Regions from separate parts of the Homo sapiens genome. Here region 2 is linked to region 1. Evidence: fine-mapped expression QTL. A gene starts in region 1. The other region holds a variant in brackets. All regions are shown on one strand. Distances are between the middles of the regions. Region 1 holds the start of SLC16A9 (solute carrier family 16 member 9). Region 2 overlaps SLC16A9 (solute carrier family 16 member 9).

Evidence for each region. PIP is the estimated chance that this variant, and not a neighbour inherited with it, causes the effect.
Region 2: its variant is the best candidate, but not a certain one, in a credible set for the expression of SLC16A9 in T cells (TOPMed, PIP 0.52).

The regions. Positions count from the first base shown.
Region 1 is chr10:59,706,745-59,711,744 of GRCh38, forward strand. It overlaps SLC16A9 (solute carrier family 16 member 9), which reads right to left and starts at 3,106. Exons shown (of 6, transcript NM_194298.3): 1 at 2,735-3,106. RefSeq lists an enhancer at 2,249-2,448 and silencers at 2,679-2,738, 2,879-2,948, 3,179-3,448.
Region 2 is chr10:59,674,657-59,680,089 of GRCh38, forward strand. The region is part of intron 2 of SLC16A9 (solute carrier family 16 member 9); the gene reads right to left. Among named protein-coding and RNA genes, the nearest start is that of SLC16A9, 32 kb to the right of the region's middle. The variant A/G (reference allele first, on the strand shown) is at 2,646.

The DNA of each region.
Region 1 (5,000 bases):
GGTTGATCACCTGAGGTCAGAAGTTCGAGACCAGCCTGGCCAACATGGTGAAACCCCATCTCTACTAAAGATACAAAAAATTAGCCAGGCATGGTGGCACGCACCTGTAATGCCAGCTACTCGGGAGGCTGAGGCAGAAGAACTGCTTGAACCCGGGAGGCAGAGGTTGCAGTAAGCCAAGATTGAGCCACTGCACTCCAGCCTGGGTGACAACAGCAAAACTCCATCTCAAAAAAAAGAGTGAAACTCCATCTCAAAAAAAAAAAAAAAAAGGGAAGTCAGCTGGGCACAGTGGCTCATGCCTGTAATCCAGCTTGGGAACCATGGCGAAACCCCATCTCTACAAAAACACAGAAATTACCTGGGTGTGGTGGCACACGCTTGTAGTCCCAGCTACTCGGGAGGCTGAGGTGCGAGGATCACCTGAGCCTGGTGAAGTCGAGGCTGCAGTGAGAAGAAAGAGAGAGAGAGAAGAGAGAGAAGAAAAGAGGGAAGGAAAAGAGGGGAGGGCAGAGGAGGGGAGGGGAGAGGAGGGAAGGGAAGGGAAGGGAAGGGAAGGGAAGGGAAGGGAAGGGAAGGGAAGGGAAGGGAGGGGAAGGGAGGGGAAGGGAAGGGAAGGGAGACTTGAATCTAAAATTGTTGAACTCAGAGAATAGAGTAGAACCCTGGTTACCAGTAGGTAGGGTTGGGGTGAAGAGATGTTTGTCAAAGGATACAAAATTTCAGTTAGATAGGAGCAATAAGTTTAAGAGATCTATTGTGCAACATAGTGACTATAGTCACTATAGTCACAATTTTGAAAATTGTTAAGATGGTAGATTTGAAGTGTTCTCACCACACCAAAAAAAAAAAAAAAACAAAAGATAAAAATGTGACGTAATACATATAGGTTAATTATGTTGGTTGGGCCATTCTACAATGTATTACTGTTTCAAAATACTGTGTTGTGTGCATCATAAATATATACAATTTTTATTACCTAATTAATTAGGGGTTTGAAAGATTGAGGTAAGGAAGTAAAACTTGAAAATGTGACCACATCTCTGTAGTTGTCATCCTCTAGCTTGAGTTGCATGGCCAGATCCACCCCAGACCACCATAATGTGTCCTGATAAAGATTCAGACACCAACCAATTCACACCACCTTTTCAGACTCAAAGTCAGAAGCCAGAAAAGATTTCCTAATGTCTTGATCTACCTCCCCATATCTTTGGCTCCTCCCAATGCTCTTCCTATGGATATGAAGGATACCTGTTATTCCACTTGCCTACACAAAAAATGGAAGAAACCAGTAGGGATGTTATTAGGGGGTCGGTGGTGCTGAAAGTCTGAGTTGTTGCAAAATTGCAGGTTAAATTATTTTATCTAATTCCTACTTGCGAGGACTTTTTTTTGATGGTGGAGGGAGAGCGGGACTGGTTTCTGGCAATGATATGGGTACTAACCATGTTTTCTGCATTTACATATTTATTATTAATTATTGCAACAGATAATAGAAAATGACTTTACTCTGCATTTGGTCCAGGAAAGTGGAAGGGTTTTCCTATTAGAAGTTTTAAAAGAAGCTATAATCATGCAACAAATAATCATCCTTTCTCTTCGGAATCTTCTCTAGCTTCCTCAGCCCTCTGCCTAAACCTGCCTGAAGAATTTCTCGAAGCTGAAGCCAACTCAAATATAAGAAACTGTTAGGGCATACCGATTTACAGAATTTGATGGAACAACGGAAAATCCTGGGTGCAGGGAATGGGAGAATCCACCTTCAATATGAACTGTTATTCAGTTAATTCAAGATTTTTAAAAAACACATCAAAACTGTAGCCTAGAAAATTGACCAAAAATGTTATATCGAATAACTTACTATATAAGTAATATATTTAGCGTAAATCCTGACTAAACTTCGGGGATAGTTTGTGTTGGATAGACTAGGCACCCAGAAAACAAGGTAAAGCATTGATTTGCTTTTGACAGCCAAGTTTGTTCGTGGTTATCAGCTCTCTGGAAAGCCTCTGGGCGCTGCTGAAGCCAGAGCAGGTTACCTAGGGCGAACCAAAGATGGGGCATTAAGCACCAAGTCCTCCCAAGTGCTGGCTGAGGGTCCAGGTGGGCGCGGTGCCGGTGCCTCCTGCGGCGGTGGCGAAGGCTGGGCTCCCGCGCTCGCCCAGGGCTGCCGGGTGGTGCTGAACCTGGCGCCAACGTGCAGAATCCGCCGGCCCTGCGCGCTGCGCTCCACGTAGGTCAGGAGTACCCGCGGCGCCCCATTCCCAACCCTCCGGGGGCACCTGGTTGCTCGCGCTCCGGACCAAGGCAGTTGGAGGCCTTTCGGTCCTCTGGGAAATGGAGGCCCACCTGCATCACATGCACCTCTCCCTGCTCTTCCACCAGCAACCCTGGAAGCTCTCTGGAGTCCAGAGGCAGCTCTCTGGGGGGCCACCGTACCACCCCCAGGACCCCCTCCCTCTCTTTCAACTCCGTACAAAATGCCGCCTTCGGATTCCCGGGAAAACTTGCCCACTTTGTAGAAGCACCCCATCAAAAAGGGGGCGGCGAGGGGCGGGCGCACCGTGGACACTCGAAGCCCCCGGCACACACCCCAGACAAAAGCCCGGTTCCATGCTGCTCCACCGCCCCCTCCTACTGCTCCGAGTCGGAGTTACTTCTTGCCTCTAGGACGCTGGGCAGCAGGGGCTGCTGCCCACCTTTGGAACCCTCCCCGCAAGCTCCAGCCCTTTACCTGAGTCCCGGCCTCGGCGGGGCCTCCGGTGCTCAGCACCCGGCTCAGTGCCCCGTGCGGCCGGGCTGGTGGTGTGGTGGGGATCGCGGCCGCCGCTCTCCCCTGCAGCTCCGGGCCAGCCGGGCGGCTATTTATCCGAGCCAGCTGCGGCCCCGGCCCCTGCCGGAGTATTAGGCAATCGGTCCCGCTACGCGCTGCCCCGGGAGCCGCCGCCCTCTGCCCCCACAGACCCGCAGCGGCGGCGGCCACATGGAGCTGGGGAGCCGGCCCCCTTCTCTGAGCTCCACCTTCTCTTTCGCCTTCTCCTCCCCGGGGTTTTCCCTGCTGTCTTTTTCTCCCTTGTCTCTCTTTGCGGGGCACCCCGGCCAGTCTGAACCGGTTGTGACTGCGCGGGTGGTTGGGGGAAGGAGGAGGAGGAGGCGGAGGAGATGGAGGCGGAAAAGCGGGCGGTAGGGGCGCTGCGCCTGCTCCCGCTGCTCCCGGCCCGGCCAGGAGTAGGGAGGGCACTGCCCGAGCCGCGGCCCCGGCCCTACCAGGCCTGGAGCCACCAAAGCCACGAGAGAGGTGGGCGCCGTCGGCCAGGCGCCCTCTCGGTGCGCACACACGCGCGTCCCCAGGCGCCGCTGTGCCCCCGCCGCCCACCACGTGCCCTGGCCAAGCCCGCCAAGGGCCGTGCGCGTTTGGGGGGAGCCGGGGTGTACAAATGAATGCGAGTGTTCCTTGGTCTCCCTGGCTCCCGGGGCCGCTGGCGCCCTCCTGGCCGGAGCTGTATGCTCAGCTGGCAGTGGTCCCGGAGAAACGGGCACCAGAACTTTGTGGAGTCCGTGATCCTGGGAAGTGAGGAGTGAGGATGCCAAGTACAGTCCTTTGTGACAGCTCCGCGGGAAAGGAGGGCGTCCTGCGGTGCACACACACACACACACACACACACACACACACACACACACACACACACAGGCTGCTTCTAAGGACGTTCAGTCTGTCCTGCAGTTGAACTGCACTAACAATACTACCATTGGCAATACTATCTTTGGTAATGGGCTTGCGCGCAGAGATGGATGGCTGTTTTATCCCTCAGTCACTGCAGCAGCTGGGGGCTGTCCATAGGTACCAGTGGTTCGCCGGCCGTGGGAAACCTCCAAAGTGATATGCACTTTTTGTGTTCCTCTGTGTTTTTTCTGGGAAGCCGCACCACACTTTCTACTTCTTAAAGGGGACTGCGGCCATCAACCACCTTGATGAGAACTTCCTTTATACACTGAAGTGACAGGTCCTGGCCTAGACGAAGACTCTACACCTGGCAAAGGGTTGGTTTCAGAAGTGCTGATCAAGCTGCTGAGCCTCTGTTTCCTTGTCTATGAAATTACAAGAATCTTGCCTGTATCATGGAGTTTGTGTGAGATGAGAGTTTAAAAAACCTGTGGAGCCTAGGCAACCATGTCATGTTTTCTTACAGCACAAATGTGGTGGAGGTTCAGCCCTTTTGGCCCCCATCAGTCCTTTCTACTCAATTTATTGACTTTCAGGTTAGAGTGAAGAGAATGACCACTGCTAGTCAATAGTATTTTGTTTTGTTCTAAGAAGGAAAAAGAGAAGAGGGGAAAAGTAACAGTGAGAATGAGAGCAACATGGTCCCAAGAATAAGTTCTGGAAGGAAAAATGGAGAAACTGTACTGTCAACACCATAAAAAACTTACTTCTAAAGAGGCAAGGGAACACAATAGGGGATTCTTAGGCTGTATTTTTTTACCTGGTTTATGGTTACTCAAGTGCGTTCACTTTGTGGTAATGCGTTGACCTATACACTGATAATTTGTGTTCTTTTCTCTATGTTTCAATAAAATAGTTTTTTTGAGATGGAGTCTTGCTCTGTTGCCCAGGCTGGAGTGCAGCGGCGTGATCTCAGCTCATTGCAACCTCCATCTCCCAGGGTTCAAGCAATTCTCCTGCCTCAGCCTCCTGAGTAGCTGGGATTACAGGCACGCAGCACTATACCTGGCTAATTTTTGTATTTTTAGTGGATATGGGGTTTCACCACGTTGGCCTGGTCTTGAACGCCTAACCTCAAGTGATCCACCGCCTTGGCCTCCAAAGTGCTGAGATTACAGGTGTGAGCCACCGCACCCAGCCAATGAAAGGTAATTTTAGAAAGTCTGTCTTTGATTCAAATACTTCCTAAGCACCAGAGCACATGTTATCTTGATTGTTGCTCAAACCAATCAATGTATATGAACTTATGTTTTGGGGACAAGGAAATTGTGCCTGG
Region 2 (5,433 bases), 32 kb before region 1:
AGGCATGACCCTTCTCTGTTGTTACCAAACTACATTGACATTGAGTTTCAGTGTTCACAAATTTTACAACACATTGGAATTGAAACACACAGAGATTATTCCTGGCATACTTGAAAAGTTTCAAGTTTCATCCTCAAAATAGGACTTTATGCTCTTTAATGCATGCTAATTCCATGAGGAAGCCTCAGAGCCTGGGAGTGTGGGGGCAAGATGGAGGAGTAATAATTTTCATAACATGTACAACCAAAGCCACTGCTGTATGAAATATACAGCATTGTTATCAACTATGTGATAAATTCTTAAGTCACTTTTTTTGCCTAACAAATGATTTTTTTTGAAGAACAATTTAAGCATTAGGAAAAAATGAACAGAAATTCTCTTACAGTGGAAACAGCAAATGGAAACAGGGTTTAAAATTCTCTACTTTCACATTGCCATCTGCTGCTGATTTAGAGAAATATATCATTAGGTCAGAGATTAAAGACAAAAAATTTTAGAGCTGAAATTTTGGAAGTTGAAAACGGTCTAAACACCTCAATTTAAAAATGGTGAAACTGGAACTCAGAAAGATCATGTGATTTGACCAAGAGTCCATAGCTAGCCAATGACAGGTCTAAGGCCAAAGTCAGACCAGCATTCTCCCTGATTGAGAAATAGTTCAATTGGGATCTTAATTTTTTCCTAGAAATCAAATTACTAGTAAAGAACATCAAGGTACTGTTAGAGTAGGTAGTTAGGCAGACATGAGCAGGGCAGGAGAGCCCTCGCCTCACCCAGGAATTTCCAGTAACCATCAGGTGATGGTCAGATGTTTATTAAACTGTTTTTCTGAAATGATAATTGGCCACAGCCAACACCAGGGGAAGAGAGTCTCCCAGTAGACAGAAAACACCTGGAGCTGGTGATCAGCAGCTTCCCAATAAGATCTCAGGAGTTGGACAAGTGGACTCTGGCATGCTCACTAAGAGGCAAAATGGTGGATGTACGACCTTCCTCTGGGGGCATTTGACTGGTAAAGGAAAACTGCCCCTACGGAGCATGAGCACAGCCTCAGTAAACACACTATGCACGTGGTCACCCTCCCAAATGACCAACACTGCCTATGCAGCAGTTGAGCAACAGCCAACCATAAGGAAAGAATCAAGAGAGAAGGAAAAACCCCAGAACCATGCCAACTTGTAAAACCCCAAGTCAAGGACTGAATGGGGCACCTGAATCTCTCAAGTTGCCCACATGGCCCTCTTCCAAGTGTAAATACTTCCTTTCACTCCTGCTCTAAAATTTTTTAATAAACTCTCACTCCGGCTCTAAAACTTGCCTTGGTCTCTTTCTCTGCTTTAAACCCACTTCTGCCCCCTGGCGGAATTCTTTCCTCCAAGGAAGCAAGGATCAAGTCTGATGCAGACCTGTATGGATTCACCACTGGTAATGGTACTTTTGTTAATGTCTTATAGATAACATAGCTTTATGAACTTATGTTAGATGAAAACATAAAATTTATAATCACTTGGTGTTCAATAGTTTAGAGCAAAATTATTTTACCCTTATCCTTAGAACCTGGGTTTATTTATAGATTCTATTCACATAGATTTAAAACACAATAGCCTCATATTTCAGCAATAACAAGACAAAATGTATCAAAGTGACCATCAAGTCACATCTGCAAAATGTGATATATTTATGTATTTAGCTCTTTGTAGTAACTGTGCAAGGCCTCAAGATGATAAACCATCTATTATTCCTCAGCACTGGATGAGTTTCAAGAGACAGATTAAATCAAAGGGCTACTTTCAGGAGATTTCTTACAATGCAAAGTGAAAACTCTGCAGAAGGGAACTTTGGAACAAAAGTTAGTTTACCTGTGACATGAACCAGTGATTCCACACCTTTGAACCTGAACAATTTTAGGGAAAAAAGGGGGGGAAAAAGGGGCAAGGGTTCCTAATGTTTTATTTTCACAAGATACTTTAAAAATATAATAACTGGCCAGGCATGGTGGCTCAAGCCTGTAATCCCAGCACTTTGTGAGGCCAAGGCAGGTGGAACACCTGAGGTCAGGAGTTCAAGACCAGGTTGGCCAACATGGCGAAACCCTGCCTCTACTAAAAATACAAAAATTAGCCAGGTGTGATGACACATGCCTGTAATCCCAGCTACTCGGTAGGCTGAGGCAGGAGAATTGCATGAACCGGGAAGGTGGAGGTTGCAGTGAGCTGGGATCACGCCACTGTGCTCCAGCCTGGGCAATGAGCAAAACTCTTGTCTCAAAAAAAAAAAAAAAAAAAGTAATAACCATCTATTATTACTACTGCTTAATTAGAGAAGAAGAAATGTTTAAATAAGCTAATAGTGAGAAGGATGTAATTTTGGAATAAAATGCAAGACAGTAAGAAGATAATAGGAACTTCACACACACACACACACTCATACATTTCCTCTATCATTGCCTTTATATTCATTTTGCCTTTGGTGAAAGTTTTTCCCGAACTTACCACTGCCTGCATATTAGTGTTCAAGAGCCAATATTATTGTTGTCAGTATTGGTGTTTAGAAGCCACTATTGCCTCAGCCTCCCAAGTTACCACCACTCCTGGCTAATTAAAAAAAAAAAAATTATAGAGACAGGGTCTCATTATGTTGCCCAG[A/G]CTGGTCTTAAACTCCTGGTCTCAAGTGATCCTCCTGCCTCAGCCTCCCAAAGCTCTAAGTATTATAGGCATGAGCCACTACACCCAGCGCAGTGTGTATTTATTATACCTATAGCTCATCTAAACTGGAATAAGCCACATTTCAGGTGCCCAGTAGCCACATGTGCCCACCCTACTGGACAGCACAGTACTAGAATCTCATATCATGTTAGAAAAGGACACAGAGAAATCAAACACAATCCAGGACTCAGACAAGAGGCAAAACAAACTCGCATCAAGGTTTAAAATAAAACCCAAGGCCAAAAGCACCAAAAGAAAGGTTCAGACGGCTTGTTTGGGGATTTCATAAGAGGAAGAAAAACCAAGGCCACAGAACTAAGCCTTGAACTAGGCTGCGAAGTATGGTTATGTCAACAAAAGGGATGAACATCTATTCTAAATGGAGGGAACAGAAACATAACGTGATTTTTCAGTTTTTAATTTATTATAGGATAGTTTTGGGAATGAAATTATTCCCTTTAGGAAATAAACTCAACCTCCACGCACTTTTTTTTTTAAGTTTAGCTACTTTTATTATTATTTTTTTAATTTATTATTATTATACTTTAAGTTTTAGGGTACATGTGCACAATGTGCAGGTTAGTTACATATGTATACATGTGCCATGCTGGTGCGCTGCACCCACTAACTCGCCCTCTAGCATTAGGTATATCTCCCAATGCTATCCCTCCCCCCTCCCCCCACCCCACAACAGTCCCCAGAGTGTGATGTTCCCCTTCCTGTGTCACACTTCTTTTTCCTAAAAAGTTTCAGAGAGTCCCAGGAGTAGAAGGATGGCCAGGTCTGCTGCAGTGAATACATAAGTTGGCTGATGCTACAGTGAGAAACAGAATATAGTAGTAACCAGGTTATGGACCTGCCATGCAGCAAGGATTTCCTAACAGAGTGGATCAGTTGGGCCTGTGAAGGTCCTACCTTTCCATCTAAAATTCAGGGAGCCCAAGGTGTGAGCTCCTCCAAATTGCAGGTTCCTCAATCCTTGCTCCAGCAAAGACTGTAAATCTCAAGTTCATCTCCTTGAGAAAGAAAAAGGCACTAAGGAGCCACACCCACTCAAATTGTTGATCTCATATACCCTGACTGCCTTTCATTTTAGTGGGTTTGGTGGTATTTAGAGATGGCAGAAAGCTTAACCAAAACCTGGTCTTTATTCCTACCAATCTTTTTTTTTTCTTTTTCTTTTTCTTTTTTTTGAGACGGAGTCTCGCTCTGTCGCCCAGGCCGGACTGCGGACTGCAGTGGCGCAATCTCGGCTCACTGCAAGCTCCGCTTCCCGGGTTCACGCCATTCTCCTGCCTCAGCCTCCCGAGTAGCTGGGACTACAGGCGCCCGCCACCGCGCCCGGCTAATTTTTTGTATTTTTAGTAGAGACGGGTTTTCACCTTGTTAGCCAGGATGGTCTCGATCTCCTGACCTCATGATCCACCCGCCTCGGCCTCCCAAAGTGCTGGGATTACAGGCGTGAGCCACCGCGCCCGGCCACCAATCTTAAAACTGCCTAGCACACTGGGAACCTGCCAATGCAACAGAATCCTTGAGAGAAGCAGGAATTCAGTACTCCTTGAAGGAGTTAACAGTGCTTAGGGGTAATGCCCAAACCCAGCTCTGCCAGCACTCATAACTCATTCAGCAAGTGGGCCTGGCCATACTGACTCATTATATTAACATGGTGATGCGTTTACTGACTCGTATTATGAGTTTGAACACCTTTGGAGGAAGTGAAGACAAAAGGGAGAGGGCAAGGACTCTCAAATCTGCTTTGAGTACAAAACTGCAGACTAGATCTCCGTGCTATTTCCTGCTGTTTCAGCACTTGGGTAGTGTGAGAAACAGAACCACCGTTTCCTTGAATTTGGAGAACAATATCTAGCCAAAGGGTGTGTTAGCTCATCTTAAAACAATGCAAGGCCATGATAGCTCTCTAGTTCAGTTACCTTCCATTCTTCCCATATCAGTCAAGTTTCAACCAGAAAAACAAAACCAGTAGGAAGCATATATTAAGACATTTGTTGCAAGGAATTGGCTTACACGTTTGAAACAACCATACTAGGCAGCCAGACAATACCTGCCTAGCTAACCAAGTCAAAAATTTGCAGAGGAGGCCATTAGGAAGGGCATGTTGGAACTCTCAGGGATAGGCTGCAGCTACAATTACAAGCAGAATTTCTTCTTTTGGGAAAGCTCATTTCTGCTCTTAAAGCCTTTCAACAATTGAGCCAAATCCATCTAGATTTTCTAGGATAAGCTACCTTATTTAAAGTTAAGTGACTATGCACTTTATTCACATCTACAAAATAACTTCCCAGCAACACCTAGATTGGTGTTTGAACAACTGGAGAATGTAACCTAGCCAAGTTGAAACATAAAACTGACCGTCACACCTCCCAACACAATCCCTCCTTTCCAGCCAAATTTACTCCATGAGAACACAGCCTCTGCAGTACCAAATCCAGGCCTCTGCATAAAGGTAATTTGCATGGACTTCCCTCTCCCTGTCTATCTGCCTATGAAAGTCCATCTTCCTATCTGGCCCATCTCAATAGCTTCCTCAAAGGCTATCCCTCTAAAACCTCAGAGATTGTTTTGCCATTGCTATTCTCCTTGATATTTGTGAATTCTCAAATTATTAGTTACCTTTTTTTTCTGTCTCTTCCCTGAGACTACAAACCTTTTAGAAACATGGATGGTGTTTTCTATATTGGCATCCCTAGCTCAGAGACCCTAGGAA